Homo sapiens: one gene and its partner. The protein of the gene in region 1 interacts with the protein of each later gene in a pairwise test. Each region holds a gene or a part of one and is shown in the gene's direction. Other genes may lie near its edges.

Region 1 (4,492 bases):
AAACTCAAGCCTTATAAATCATTAAACTGACAATACTCTCTGTTTTTCTTGTTTTATTTCTGGGAAAAATTAGCAAAAGATTAAAAATTTGACCAGGTCACAACAAAATCAGTAAAAAGTCTCTAAACAGGAACTGTATCTAGGTTATCATGCACTGTTCTAAACATAAGCTGATGGTCCAGTTATAGCTCTGTATTTATTATTTATTTTTAAATATTTTTGATTTAGAAAATCCATGCAGTCCACTAAATGTTCCATACGATTTAGTGACAATAATGTTGGATGTTTTCCAAAGGATTCACTATCCACAACATTGAAAAATATCATTCGGAAGAAAATTACTGTTTCAAAACTAAACCCATAATTAGTTAACCAATCAATTTGTATCATTATAGGTGATAGAGACCCGACCCTGTCTGACATGTCCACTTTATTATAATAATTTAAATAATTAACATTTAAAAATGTTTGTGCCTTTCAAACTGTCTTATCGTCATTCATGATTGGAACTGCTCAACATTCATTTGAGACTCTTTGATGCTATTATTTTCATTTGCCCAGTAGGGAAATGATCCAAGCCTGGATAACTTCCCAAGAGCATCAAGGCAAGAGAATAAAGAGTACTTCCCTGTGACAACTTATCTTCTCTCTAGGGTACTATAAGTACTGGTTTTCTAGGTAATGATGAAAACACCTCCCTCCTTATATATTTTACTCCTTGCTAATCAATATGATGCTCACTTCTCAAAATAATTCCTAATGTCTTAAATACATACATTTAAACTAAAAGACAGTAAACACTATTTAGGGGTAGGGAAGTGAACAATTTGGAGACTGTTAGTTGAATTGATGTCCTGCTCCTGGACCAAACCAAGAAATCTCAATCGAATTAATTCTCCACCATCATCACATATTCATGAATTATATTGAAATTAACAATAAGCAGGACTGCAGGATTTCTATTACTTCAGTTTTCAATTCAAGAAATGGTAGATTTCTTTTAAAATCTCCCACTACCAAAAGATCAATAGATGCTGAGATTTTCTGGTTTTGATAAGAAGGAAAACACACACCCAGACACCCAGGGCAGTGGCTCACACCTGTAATGCTGGCCACAGGAGGCTGAGCTGGGTGCTGAGGCTGAGGATCACTGGAGGCCAGGAGTTCGAGACCAGCCTGGGAAACATAGCGAGACCACATATCTTTAAAAAAAGGAAAAAAGAAAAAGAAACGAAAGGAAGAAAGGAAGCACTCAATGAAGTGGGAATACTAGAAATACTCTATGAGCGTTAACAGGACAAAAGTAGGAGACATTTCTCATTGGAATTATTAATTCTTTGTTATATGTGGCAGGGGGAGAATCTAGATTCTATTAATATTCCAGTGGCCAAAAAGATGCACATTTAGTCATATTTAATTTTGGCCTTTGAGGCTATGATTTAGTTTTACTTCACCTGGCACCATTTTTATATATAAAAAATATCCTTGGGGCACCTTTCCACCTACAGACTGGACGCTGTTAAAAATTACCCAATTGTGAAAAACAACAATTAGGATGCAAGTAAATTTTATTACAGACTGGCATAGTCAAGACTGAAATGACCCAGTGAATACTATAAAAGGCCAAGGGAGCTAACAAGTGTGGAAGGTGAACCCTGGCTTTGCTCCTCTTTCTGGGAAGGGGTTGCCCGGCTGTGCTGCCACCATGTCTTTTCGACTTTCTGGTGGATCCAGGAGGATCTGCTCGCGAACTGGGTCTGGTAGGCTGTCCGGTGGAGGAACAGGCTTCGTGGCTGGGAATGTGTGTGTTGGATCGGGAGCAAGAAGCAGCTTTTCTTGTACTCTTGAGGGCATCTCTTCTGGAGGAAGCTTCTGCAATAGCGGTGGAGGGTTGGGAAGTGGTGCCTGTGCTGGTTTTCTTGGCAATGAGCACAGCCTCCTCTCTGGGAATGAAAAGGTGACCATGCAGAATCTCAACGACCGCCTGGCATCCTACCTGGACCATGTGCATGCTCTAGAGGAGGCCAACGCAGACCTGGAGCAGAAGATCAAGGGCTGGTACGAGAAATGTGAGCCTGGCTCTTCCCGGGAACACGATCATGACTATAGCAGATACTTCTCAGTCATAGAAGATCTTAAAAGGCAGGTAAGAAATAGGGATTTGCATACTTTTACTACAGACTTTGTGTGTTGATAATTTAAAGAAGAGAAAATATAAAATGTGCCTAACAAATTTATGTGATGTAAGATTTGTTCACTCTGTATTTCCAGTGCTAAGCACAGTACCTGGCAATAAAATCTTGTAGAATTAAATAATGAAAAAGAAATCATTTCAAAACAGATATAGTCACTTCGTTTTTCATATATTTAGCTCATACCATTTGATCAAAAGTAGTAAAAGTATCTATGTGGCTCTTAAGCTCTGGATGCTTATTATCTGAAGAAAATCCAGATTTCTTTAACATAGAAAAAAGATACTAAAACAGATGTTTGACAGATTAAGAAGATATAAAATCACACTGAAGTCTGGAGCCTCCTTTGACTTTTGGTAATTAACATTTTTCACAATCTTCCCTATTTAGATTATTTCTGCGACCATCTGCAATGCCAGCATTGTTCTACAAAATGACAATGCCAGACTGACCGCTGATGACTTCAGGCTGAAGTAGGTGAAAACAAACTGATTAATTATATTAATAAAAGTTAAAATATTACAATTGGATTAAGGAATATATATTTTGCTTTGAAAACCAAAATGTTTTTCTAAAGCCAGACTAGATCAATAAAGAAATTGAATTAAATAAGCCGTTATAAAAAGAGCTATCATGGTTGGATAGAGTAGCTCATGCCTGTAATCCCAGCACCTTGGGAGGCTGAGGCAGGCAGATCACTTGAGGTCAGGAGTTTGAGACCAGCCTGGCCAATGTGGCAAGACCCCGTCTCTACTAAAAGTACACACACAAAAAAATAGTCAGGCATGGTGGCTCACTCCTGTAATCCCAGCTACTTGGGAGGCTGAGACATGAGAATCACTTGAACCCGGAAGGTGGAGGTTGCAGTGAGCTGAGATGGGGCCACTGCACTTCAGTCTGGGTGACAGAGTGAGACTGTCTCAAAAACAAACAACAAAAAAGAGCAATCACATATTTTTTAAAATCTAAAATCTAGCAATATTTTATTTAATTGTTAAGCACATTGGATGACAAAAATCAGCTCTGAAGAAATAACATCCCCAAAATACAATTCATGAATTGTTAGGTATCTCAAACCATTTTAGCAGTTTGCCATTGCAAGAAGCTTCAGAGGTATGTACAGAACATCATATCTTTCAGCATATGAAATACCTTAAAAAGTTGTGCTTTGCACCTGCCTACGATGACAACTCTCAGGTGCCTTACTAATCTTTCAGGTATGAAAATGAGCTGGCTCTGCACCACAGTGTTGAGGCCGACACCAGTGGTCTTCGCAGAGTGTTGGATGAACTGACCCTTTGTACAACCGACCTGGAGATACAGTGTGAGACCCTCAGTGAGGAATTGACCTACCTCAAAAAAAGTCATGAGGAGGTAAGGAAGCCTGCAGAGTGGCTTCATACAGTTTCTAATTTCCTTCTTGAAGTCCACTGTTCATTTCGTAGCAGGGCATGAACATCAATCAAAATCCTCCACTGAGGATGAATACCGATCCCTTTTCTAGGAAATGGAAGTCTTGCAATATACAGCTGGGGGGAACGTGAACGTGGAGATGAATGCAACCCCAGGAGTGGACCTAACTGTCCTGTTGAACAACATGAGGGCTGAGTATGAGGACTTGGCTGAGCAGAACCGCAAAGATGCTGAAGCCTGGTTCAACGAGAGGGTAGGTCTATGGCAAATTACAAAGGGCTTGCTCAGGAGACAATCAGGCCAGTCACTAACCCTTTCGACAATTACACTTCAGAGTGCAACGCTGCAACAACAGATTTCCGATCATGAGGGAGCAGCCACAGCAGCCAGAAATGAGCTGACCGAATTAAAACGCAATCTGCAAACCCTGGAAATAGAACTTCAGTCCCTCATGGCTGTGGTACGTAGGAATCGCCATTGAATTGAATATATGTGTGAATATGTATAAGTCAATACAGATATAAAAATACATATAACACCAAGTACGTATAACCATTTACATATGACTAAAAGTATAAAATATATTAAATATCAAGAATTCTGTCCCTAAACTCACCAATTCCAAAACTTGAAAAATGCCTTTTTACAATAGAGGAATTTTTTTAAATCTTGCAAATGTTGATTTTCAATTGAAAATATTCAGACCTTATACAAATAATTATTTCTACCTTGAGAATATTTAAAATATGACCATGCCGGCCAAGCACAGTGGCTCACACCTGTAATCCCAGCACTTTGGGAGGCCACGGCAGGTGGATAACTTGAGGTCAGAAATTCAAGACCAGCCAGGCCAACATGGTGAAACCCCATCTCTACTAAAAATATAA
Region 2 (3,043 bases), on another chromosome or scaffold:
GCCCTTCCTCATGAACCCCAGTCGCGCCTCTGCCTTCTCATCCCTGCGCACCACACAGGCTCGCTCGTGCCCGGTGAGTGCTGAGGCTGCTCTGCACGTGGAGTATGGCCCTGTGGGCAAGGGCTGGGCTCTTGGAGGTAGGGGAGCTACAGGGGCGACTGGGAGGAGGATGTTGTGTTACACACGCATCAGAGTTAACTTTGCAGTGAGAGCGGCCTTGCTGCGGCCAAAGAACATGGAAAAGCATGAGTGGGGTGATGTGCCTTAAAGCATCAGACACTTGGGCCTCGGGCATCAGGAGCCAGCCACAGGGATGTCTGGGGAAATGGCGTTCCATGAGATGCAAGCACACAAGAATGCACTTGGCACATCTGGGGAACAGCAGGCAGCTGATATCACTGGGCCCACCCCGCACCAGGGAGGATGGAAGCAGGTGAGGAGCTAGACCACACTGAGGCGGTGGTCGGGACTCGGGGTTTGCTCAGTGAGCCGTTCACTATGTGCAGGGGCAGTTCCCCGTCTGAATTTAGGTGACGACACTCAGGTCCAGCCTTGCCAGTCTCAGCCTCCGGTCTCCGTTCCCCCTCTGCAGAGGCCACATTGTCTGCTGCACGTGATCATGAGGGGTTGTGAAGTGCTTGCCCCATCAGTAGCCATGTGTGCATGTGTAAATACCATCCTCTGTGTGCCCTGGAGGCTGTCCTTCAGATAGCATGTACAGGTGGCAGCATAGGGCCTGTCCCTTCTGAGAGTGCAGGGAACTCAGCACCGTCAACTCCTCGACCCTGCAGGTCAGATTATCCTTGTAGAGGCCCCCTGGATGGCACCAAGATCGGCCCTGGCAAGTAGGTGACCCTGACTTCAGAGCCCTTGCCTGAGGGCCTGGCCTGGCAGCTCTGCTGTTAGAAGCAGGAGGTGTGCAGAGGGTGGGGAGCAGCCCAGCCTCTGTGATCTTCTCCATGGCAGGATCTCCCAGCAGGTAGAGCAGAGCCGGAGCCAGGTGCAGGCCATTGGAGAGAAGGTCTCCTTGGCCCAGGCCAAGATTGAGAAGATCAAGGGCAGCAAGAAGGCCATCAAGGTAGTCCCCATACCCCTGTGTCCTGAGGCTACTGGGCAGTCCCTCCATTTCCCCGTGCCTCTGAGGCTGCCCAGTCTCTGCCCTGCTGCCCACCTGTACCTTGAGCTTTCTTCTCGCCCAGGCTTCCAACTCCACCCTCTCCTGCCAAGCAATCCTAGCCCTCTGAGCCTCTTGGGGCCCCCTCAGACTTGTCCCTGTGTCCACAGGTGTTCTCCAGTGCCAAGTACCCTGCTCCAGGGCGCCTGCAGGAATATGGCTCCATCTTCACGGGCGCCCAGGACCCTGGCCTGCAGAGACGCCCCCGCCACAGGATCCAGAGCAAGCACCGCCCCCTGGACGAGCGGGCCCTGCAGGTCTGCTGGCCGCGCATATAGCCTGTCACACACCAGGAGGACTGGATACTGGGGAGGAGCCGGGGCCACCATAGGGTTCTGTCCCCCAGAGGAGGCTGACTGGGATGGGATGGCAGCTGATTAGGCCCAGCACCAAATATTCACCATCCCTTGGCCATCCTGGCCCTCTCAGGAGAAGCTGAAGGACTTTCCTGTGTGCGTGAGCACCAAGCCGGAGCCCGAGGACGATGCAGAAGAGGGACTTGGGGGTCTTCCCAGCAACATCAGCTCTGTCAGCTCCTTGCTGCTCTTCAACACCACCGAGAACCTGTATGGCCAGAGGGCAGGGCCGAGGGGTGTGGGCGGGAGGCCCGGCCTGGCTTAGTGGGGACCCAGGGCATCAGACACAGGTACAGCACATAGGCCAGGAGCCAGGGGGTGACTGGGGTGGCTCGGCTCGGGAGGCCTGGGACCCCACAGTGCACACTGTGCCCCTGATGATGTGGGAGAGGAACATGGGCTCAGGACAGCGGGTGTCAGCTTGCCTGACCCCCATGTCGCCTCCGTAGGTACAAGAAGTATGTCTTCCTGGACCCCCTGGCTGGTGCTGTAACAAAGACCCATGTGATGCTGGGGGCAGAGACAGAGGAGAAGCTGTTTGATGCCCCCTTGTCCATCAGCAAGAGAGAGCAGCTGGAACAGCAGGTGGGAGGGGTGGGACAGAGGTGGAGACAGGTGCAGTGGCCCAGGGCCTTGCCAGAGCTCCTCTCCAGTCAAGGCTGTTGGGCCCCTTATTCCACCCATGGGAGGTGCACACAAGGTCTTGTTGGCTGCCCCTGCAGGTCCCTGTCACCTCTCACATGTCCCTGCCTAATCTTGCAGGTCCCAGAGAACTACTTCTATGTGCCAGACCTGGGCCAGGTGCCTGAGATCCATGTTCCATCCTACCTGCCTGACCTGCCCGGCATTGCCAACGACCTCATGTACAGTGCCGACCTGGGCCCCGGCATTGCCCCCTCTGCCCCTGGCACCATTCCAGAACTGCCCACCTTCCACACTGAGGTAGCCGAGCCTCTCAAGGTAGGTGAGCTGGGTTCTGGGATGGGAGCTGGGCCGGGGACCTCCCTGCTCACACACCTTCTTCCCTAGACACCCCACACTTTGTGTTTCAGACCTACAAGATGGGGTACTAACACCACCCCCACCGCCCCCACCACCACCCCCAGCTCCTGAGGTGCTGGCCAGTGCACCCCCACTCCCACCCTCAACCGCGGCCCCTGTAGGCCAAGGCGCCAGGCAGGACGACAGCAGCAGCAGCGCATCTCCTTCAGGTGGGAGCAGCTCTTTGAGGCCACCTGATTTCTGGCGTGCTCAGTGCACTCGGGTGGATTTTCTGTGGGTTTGTTAAGTGGTCAGAAATTCTCAATTTTTTGAATAGTTTCCATTTCAAATATCTTGTTCTACTTGGTTCATAAAATAGTGGCTTTCAAACTGTAGAGCTCTGGACTTCTCACTTCTAGGGCAGAGGGAGCCTGAACAAGTGAGGCTCTGGGTTCCTCATTCCTAATTAAACCAATGGAAAGAAGGGGTCTAATAACAAACTACAGCAACACATTTTTCATTTCAGCTTCAC

Evidence for each region.
Region 2: the proteins of KRT26 (region 1) and WASHC1 interact in a two-hybrid assay, tested with the Homo sapiens proteins (one large-scale study listed by BioGRID).

The regions. Positions count from the first base shown.
Region 1 is NC_000017.11:40,769,327-40,773,818, reverse strand, and holds the start of KRT26 (keratin, type I cytoskeletal 26), read left to right. Parts: upstream 1-1,617; 5' UTR 1,618-1,705; coding exon 1,706-2,146; intron 2,147-2,582; coding exon 2,583-2,665; intron 2,666-3,409; coding exon 3,410-3,566; intron 3,567-3,696; coding exon 3,697-3,858; intron 3,859-3,939; coding exon 3,940-4,065; intron 4,066-4,492.
Region 2 is NC_000009.12:16,416-19,458, reverse strand, and holds part of WASHC1 (WASH complex subunit 1), read left to right. Parts: exon of another isoform or gene 1-313; coding exon of another isoform or gene 314-433; intron 434-966; coding exon 967-1,078; intron 1,079-1,284; coding exon 1,285-1,431; intron 1,432-1,603; coding exon 1,604-1,740; intron 1,741-1,979; coding exon 1,980-2,115; intron 2,116-2,292; coding exon 2,293-2,494; intron 2,495-2,582; coding exon 2,583-2,741; intron 2,742-3,043. UniProt on the Homo sapiens protein: Acts as a component of the WASH core complex that functions as a nucleation-promoting factor (NPF) at the surface of endosomes, where it recruits and activates the Arp2/3 complex to induce actin polymerization, playing a key role in the fission of tubules that serve as transport intermediates during endosome sorting.